2 linked regions of the Homo sapiens genome follow. The protein of the gene in region 1 purifies or fractionates together with the protein of each later gene. This does not show direct contact. Each region holds a gene or a part of one and is shown on either strand. Other genes may lie near its edges. The genes, in order: NAT8L and FLNC.

Region 1 (3,802 bases):
TGGAGGTGCCCGGTCCCCGCTTGGGGATGGGAGTTTTGTAGACTGTACAGAAATCGGCACCCTATTTTCTTGCAGCTCAGATTTTGTTAATCTGGAATATACAGACAGACGTAAAGTGTTTTAGCAAAATGGAAACAAACAGTTGTGCCTTTTTCCTCTTTTGGTTTGGTTTGGGTTTGGCCTGGGGCTGGTCCCAGTTGGTGCGGGGCATGCTGGGGGCAGGAGGGGCAGGGCGGGCCAGGTGGAGTCAGGTCTTGGGGGTGTCATGTCGGGGTGCTGCCAGCGTCCCTTGGTCCTGTGCCTTTGGAGCCTCGGGCTCCTGGGGTGCAGGGTGCTTGGGGGTGGCTGTTGGAGCCCACCGACGCCAGGGCAGGGCCTGGAGGCCCAGGGACTGCCAGTGTCTCCTTGATATTGATCCTAGCAGATCCCCCTCCTGGGGGTTCTGAGAGTCCTGGGCAGTGTGGCCTTCTCTCATTCTGGTGGCATCTGCGCCCGTGAGTGACCTCTTCCTTGGCTGCACTGCCCTGTGGGTGGTGAGACGCTTGGCCTTTTTTGTTGCTGCCAGGACTTGGTAGAGATGGCAGGAAGGGTGTGCGGGGTGGTTGTGTGCAGAACCCTGCCGCCCCTGAGGTGAGCAGAGGCACTGGTGTGCCTGCCAGGCTGGGGCGGAGCTGCCCGGAACCCTTGCCAGGCCAATGTGTAGCTTGGTGGCGCCCTTGAAGGCCACTGGGGGGTAGGTGTGTCCTCCCCCGGGGCTGGAGGCCGGGTGCCTGGTGGGTGGGCCTGACCTGGCCCACCTCATCCCTCCAGCCTGGGATCTCACTGCTCTGCACATGTGCACTGACGTGAATTTTATACGTTTGTAGAAACTCTGATGTAACTTCTTCTACCTCTGAAGCGCCCTCCTGGGCCCTGCTGTCACGTGGCTGGTGCGGCTTCCCCGAGTGCTGGCCCCCTGCCCGCTCCCCATGGGCACCCACCACTCAAACTCTGCGTGGTGAGGCCCGGGGAAAGCCAGGCCGGGCCCTAGCACTGCTCAGGGGCCTGGGGCTCCTGGGATTTCTGTGTGTTTGGAAGCCTCTGTTTTTGGAGTGGGGGGCGTGGAAGGCGGGAGGGGCTGACAGTGCCTGGGGCCAGAGCTGGGCGAAGGAGGACATCCTCACTGGACGAGCACTGCAGGCCTGACGAGAGGCTCCGGGCAGCTGAGGGCTGAAGCGCCTCGGGATGCCCCACACTGCCCAGAGCCACGGGTCTTGCTGTGCTGGGGGTGGGGTGGCCCCAGGCAGCTGCCACTGCCCAGGTGTGAGTCGCTGCAGACCTGGTCCCTGAGGGTGGGAGGCCTGCTTGTGCTGAAGCTGCCATGTGGTCTGGCCCCCAGAAGGGCTCCTGAGCGTAGGGAGTTGAGCCCCGCAGCCGTGGCGGCATCTCCTCCTCCTTCCTCCGCCCCATGCCCAGCCTTGCTTCCGGCTGGTGGCATGCCTTGGGGCCGGGCAGCAGGTGAGAAGCTGCCCCCGGAGGGAGGGGCCAAGGGCTGGGTCAGTCTGGCCTGAGGGGTGGATGGCTGGCCCTGGGGGAAGGCTGGGCCTGGGAGGCCCTGTGGACAGCAGGCCTGAGGCCACGAGGTCCTGGGGCCACCCCTCTCCTGCTCTGGGTGTCCTTCTCAGAGAAGATGGCAGAAGGCTGCAGGCCCTAGAGGGGACGACGGGCTGGGGACGCCCTGAGCTTCCTGGCTGTGTGGCAGGTGCTGGGGAAGCTCTCTGGGCCATAGGGACCTGGCTCCCCTCTGAGAGGCCCGCCTGCCCTGGGGCACCCAGGGCTGTGCTGGTGGCCTGAGGCTGGGAACTTGGGTTCCTGGGCTCTGCTGGCGCCTGGGCTTTGTGGGGGCCGAAGGTGGTTGCCCCGCCGGGCAGGGGGCTGTGTGGGCCCTCGTGGGGCCACCTTCCTGTCAGTGCCCGAGGGACGGTGGGACAGTTGCCCCTGCGCCAAGGGAGCCCACTGCCATCCCCCGTGGGCTGGCGCTGCAGTCGCGCACCCTGTGTTGCCTGCTGACTTGCTTATGTCTGTTTGGAAGCTGCTTCTGTTTGGCCACAGGCCTGTGTTCCTGGGCTGATGGCCACAGAGCTGACACTTGGGGTTTGAGTTCCAGACTTGCAGACCCTGGGATCCGCTTACTCCTCCGCGCCACGGCTGCTGTGCTTCCAGAGGTGGCGTGATGCCTCCCGGGGCCATGGTGGGGTGAAGGATGGCGAGCCGGACATACCATTGTTGGATGTATTTTTTTTAAAACAGCAATAATTAGCCATTTTAAAGGAGGGATGTACCTGTGTGTGTGCATGTGCACGTGTTTGAGCGTGTGTGTGTGTGCAAGTGGGTTCTTGGATATGTGTAGTGTGAGCATGTGTGCATGTGTGAGCCTGTGCACGTGCATGTTGTAGGTGCATAAGCATGTACACGCGTGAGCATGCATGTGTGTGTACACGTGTATAGGTGTACATGTGCATGAGTTGTGTACATGCGTGAGCACGTGTATAGATGTACGTGTGTGTGCGCATGTGTGCGTGTACATGTGTTTGTGTCTTGGGTATGCATAAGCATGCACGTGTGTATGAATGTGCGTGTGTATGCATGAGCACGTATGCATGTGTGATGCGCATGTTCTTGTGTACTTCTCTGAGGGGGCACATATGTATGAGTGTATGAGTGCATACATATGCATATGGTGTACGTGTGTGTACTTTGTGTGTGGGCATGTATGCGTATGAGTACTTGTGTGTGGCTGGTGTATGGGTGAGCATGCACATGTGTATGGATGCATATGTGAGCTGTACATGTAGAGTGTACATGTGTGTTGCATGAGCATGCATGCGTGCGAGTGCCTGTGTGTGTACTTGCATATATGTGGCTGTGCAGGTACCCGGCGGTGGTGGGCTGGCAGTGCCCGGGGAAGCAGGTCCTGCTCACGGCTTCCCTGCTGGGCCCCAGGCCCCGGGCTGAGCCTCCCTGGCCCCTCTTGCCCCTCAGTGGAGCAGGGCCTGGGTGGAGGGCCTGGGCAGCTCCAGGGCAGGTCCGGGGAGGCCAGGCTTGGGGAGCACAGGGGGTGGGGTTCACCTGCTGCTGTTTGTTCCCGAAACTGTACTGTGAGCCCACGGCGGGGGCAGATTGTTCTGAGGCCCCAGATGTGCCAAAACAGCCCCCAGGGTGGGGGCGAGCGAGTTCTGAGGAGAGGGGCTGCGGGGGCCGGGGGTGGGTGTGTGCCCCTCCCCTGAATGGCCCCCAATGCTGCTGTTTTTCAATAAAACCAGAGTTGAAGGCACCTGGCTCCCGTGCTCTCTTGAGGCGCTTCCTGCCCACTGTGTGGCAGGGCTGGCTTTCAGGGATGTGGCCCCACCCTTGGTTGCCCAGTTTGGCCCCCGCCGCCTCCCCCTTCTCCCCTGGCCACCCCCTTTCCCCACCTCGGCTCCCCTACACCTGGCCAGGCTGCCCTGCAGCCAGCACTGCCCCCTGGAGGGAGTGTAATCCAGGAGGTGGGGCAGGGGGGCTTGGTGGCCCCATGGGCTGAGGCCCCTCCCCCAGCAGGCACCCAGCCGGGTGGGCTTTGCCCATTCACTCTCAGGCCTGGGATCCCCCTGAGCAGCTCCTGGGCCCTGCCCTCCCCCAGCTCTGTGCTTGGTCCTGGGTACTCTAACTCCTGGCAGACAGCTTGTCCCCCAGCCCTTGCCCCCGCCCCATTTTTGCCACCCCAGTGGGACAAGGCCCCGCTGCCCTGTCCTCCTGGGTCTGGGGTTCCCAGTTCCTGTGGTTA
Region 2 (3,802 bases), on another chromosome or scaffold:
ACGGCCTGCTCCTCTCACCCAAGCCCCAGCCCAGCCCAGCCCCTAACTCACCAGGGATGTGGTTGCCGTCATACTTGATCCCCATCTGGTGCAGGCCTTTCTCAGTGGGTGCATACCTCACCGTGATGGTGCCGTCCTTGTTGTCGGTGATGTTGGGCCGTGCCGTCTTCCCCGAGGGCATCCGCACCTCTCCTGCAGGGCAGACACAGTTACGTGGAGACCCTGGTTTCCCCCACTGCAACCTCCCTGCTGTCCCAGGCCTGGTCCTGAGTGCTTCTGCTGCCACCCGAGAAGCCAGGCATCAAGAGACAGCCTGTGGCAGTGGCCTGAGCCCTGAACTGGGGACAGATGGCTTGCACCTGAGTTCTGGCTCTGCCCAACTTGCTGTGTGACCCTGGGTAGAGCTCACTTCCTCTCTCTGGGCCTTTGTTTTCATCATTAAGACACAGGACTGGGCCTGGAAGAGGGTTTCTCCCCTCAGCCCTCATGCCTGGGAGCCACAGGGCAGTACCTGTGAGCTCCCCTTTCTGCACCGCGAAGGGGATGACCAGGTTGAAGGGCCTCAGCATGGACTCCATTGGCTCCACAGGCACCACTGGCTCCTCTGTGGCCTGCAGCAGGTGAGAGGGAACAGTCAGTGACTGGGGAAGGCCCAGGAGTTTGACCCATGCTATGACTGAAGCTGGAGAGTGAGGAAAGAACAAGGTAGTTAATCATGAAACCAGCGTGGCAGGAGAGGTGCGTCAGCTGCAAGAGAAGGAGTGCTGTGCCCAAGTGGGGTTCCATCTGCCCAGCCTAACTCTTGCCTGCTCCCCAAGAGGCCCCCAGACCATGTCCCCGCCCTGGCTGCAGAGGAGTAGAGAGAAGAAATGAAGGAAGGGGAGGAGGAGGAGGACATCGCCTGGTGGGAGGCGCAGTACCCAGTGTGTGGGGCGGGCGCCGGGCCGGGGAGGAGCGTAGGGCTGGCGCAGCTGTGGCACTTCAGAGGGCTCCTCCTCGTGCGGCAGGGGGTCACACGCCTGGGGAGGCAAGGCACGGGGGCACAGGGTGTGGCAGCCTCACAGGCCTAGGGGCTGACTCAGAGAATGGCCCAGGAACCTGAAATGCTGGGTGATAATTTGGGTGTTCATCCTCCTGCAGGGCAGCCTCTGGGGAGATGGAGCTGGGGATGGTGGAGAGCACAGCGGGTTCCTCCAGAGACAGCTGACAGCACTGGGCAGGGGGCAGGGCCATGCTCTCCTCCCACTTCGGGGGTGCTGTGGGGAAAGTTAAGGCTCCATCCTGGAGCACTCTGGCCCCAGGAGCCCTCAGAGAAGTGGGATTCCTTGGGGACAGTTATCTGGGATCCCTGCTGCTGCTAAAAGGGCCAGGCCCCCCTCCCCAGCCATCTAGTCTTGCTGTGGCTACAGAACTTACCAGCACGTGGAAGGGGCTGTTGGGGATGTGCTCACCCCCGAAGCGGATGGTGATGACGTACTTGCCCGGCTCGGGCGCTGTGTAGTAGATGTCAAAGGTACCGTCATGGTTCTCAACCACATCCACATCGAGCTCTGCCCCATCCGGCGTGGACACCGTGCATGTCACCTTCCCCTCACCGGCTGCCTTGGCATCCACCGTGATCACCGTCTCCTGCCCAATCTGGATTCGAGGGCCCAGGCAGGCACCTGCCATGCGGGAGATCCTGCTCAGGGAGCTGGTGGGCTGGAGCCAGCCCTCTCTGTTCCCGCTGCCCGCCCCCTACCGCCAACCACCCTGGCCCACACCAAGAAGAGGAGAGAAAGGGCACTCACCCAGGCCATGGCCTCCAATGGACACTGGAAAGAGAGAAGAGTGTGAGGCCAGGCGGTGCTCAACGTGGGCTGGGGCATTGGGCGGGGGTGAGGGAGGGAGGGGCCAGGGCTAGGGCATGTGTGCTCTCCGACCAGCAGACCCCTGGGGACCAGGCCAGGGTTCTGGAGGGGCTTTGAGGGGCTGGGTGGTGAGCAGGGCACGGGCAGCGGGTGGGCACCCACCTGTGACGAGGCACTTGCTGGCATCCCCAGTGGGCAGAGCATGGATGCGGAAGGGCGAGTAGGGGATCTCATCACCGCCATACTTGATGGTGATGGTGTACCGGCCACTCATGTCCGGCAGGTAGGACACAGTGTACGTGCCATCCCCATTGTCCCGGATGTTGGCCTTCTTGGGCTTACCCTCGGGGTCCTGAGGGAGAAGCAGAGGTCAAGGCCCGCCTGTGCCTGGAGCATGACCTGCGGGGTGGGATGCACAGAGACTCACCAAGATCTGGACAGTGAGCAACCCCTCGCCCGCGTCCCGTGCGTCGATGGTGAACTCCACAGGCAGGCTGGCAGGGATGCCAGAGGCGTTGAGGCCTGGGCCGCTGGCCCGCACCTTGCTGGCATCATGAGCTGGGAGGACCTTGATCTTGAAGGGGCTTGAGGAGCAGAAGGGATAAACAGTTGGCTGGGTGGCATGGACGGGGCGGTGGGGGGTGATCTCATCTTGAGCCAGAGTCCTCCCCATAGACATGGGCAGGAGGGAGGACTGTGGGGCAGGGAGGAGGGACCAGTTCCCAGAAGCCGATGACATTCCATGTCTGGGGGTGGGGGCACTCTGGGACTCCCTCGACAGAGCCAGGGTACGTCTCCATTCCCCAGGAAGGTGCTGTGGGAGGGTCCAGGAGGAGGCCCTGGCCCAGGCCTCCTGCACTCTTCCTAAGGCGCTAGGTTTGCCGTAAAAGCTCCTGGGGCAGGAAAGCCTCACAGCAGAGAGCCCCGGGGAAGAGCGGGATGGGGTGGCGAGACTGGACGAGGCTGAGAGCTGGGAGAGGCTCTCCCAGGGGACTCCAGCAGTGATCCTGAGTGCCACCCCAGCAGGAGCACCCCAGAGCTCAGCCGCAGCACAGGAGCCCAGGGCTGGTCCTCACCTGCGTGGCACCTCCTGGTCAGCATACTTGACGGCTACCGTGTAGGGCCCGTCAGTGGCTGGGGTGTAGTGGACAGTGTGGGTGCCATCTCCATTGTCCCGCACCTCCACAGGCTCGGCCACACCTGGGCAAGGGGCACAGGGTCAGCAGAGCCTCCGGGCGTCCCGCCCCACCTCCCTCCTCCCTGCCCCGGCCATTCTATACCTGTGGGGCCCAGCACAGCCACCTGCAGGGGCGCCCGGCCAGCTTGACTGCAATCCACTGTGAAGGTCTGAGGAACCCGGGCCCTGACACCAGCCCCCAGCCCTGGCCCTGAGCACTTCACCTTCCCAGGGTCCACCACATCCTTCACTGGCACGCGGAACGGGCTCCCTGTGAGGAGAAGGACATTAGACCCTGCCCACCAGCCCTGATGGGTCCCCCTGATGCTGAGGAGCCTCGGAGGAGGAGGCCTTCCCTGCCTTTGAAATGCCCACAGGGAAGCCAGACCAACATGGGAAAATGGCTAGGAACTTGCTAAGAAAACACACACAAGAATAAATGAACTTGACTGCAGACTGAGGCTGGGCAAACCTCACTCATGTGGGTCCCAGGCCTGGAAGAGAAGGCCTTCCTAAATTAATAAAATGTGAAAATAAAATGTTTTCAAAAATGAAATGTATTTCTGACACTGTGGCTGAAATAATAAAAAGATGGGAAATTAGATAAGGGAAAAAATTTCCAATTTCAGCAGTCCCAAGTCATACAATATTTGAAGACATGACCTGCCCGGGCAGCTGGGTCTGCAGAGGGCAGGGGAGTTCTGCAGACGATGCGTGCAAGAAGGCCCAAGGCTGGCCTGAGCCGCCAAGAGGAGTGGACTGTGTCTGAGTTTCT

What was found.
Region 2: the proteins of NAT8L (region 1) and FLNC purify together in Homo sapiens (affinity purification with mass spectrometry, with the first as the bait; one large-scale study listed by BioGRID). This does not show direct contact.

Annotation. Positions count from the first base shown.
Region 1 is NC_000004.12:2,065,777-2,069,578, forward strand, and holds the end of NAT8L (N-acetylaspartate synthetase), read left to right. Parts: 3' UTR 1-3,313; downstream 3,314-3,802. UniProt on the Homo sapiens protein: Catalyzes the synthesis of N-acetylaspartate acid (NAA) from L-aspartate and acetyl-CoA. Promotes dopamine uptake by regulating TNF-alpha expression. Attenuates methamphetamine-induced inhibition of dopamine uptake.
Region 2 is NC_000007.14:128,847,193-128,850,994, reverse strand, and holds part of FLNC (filamin-C), read right to left. Parts: intron 3,299-3,802; coding exon 3,131-3,298; intron 3,051-3,130; coding exon 2,927-3,050; intron 2,435-2,926; coding exon 2,278-2,434; intron 2,203-2,277; coding exon 2,013-2,202; intron 1,815-2,012; coding exon 1,791-1,814; intron 1,665-1,790; coding exon 1,417-1,664; intron 1,020-1,416; coding exon 921-1,019; intron 834-920; exon of another isoform or gene 612-833; coding exon 512-611; intron 193-511; coding exon 52-192; intron 1-51.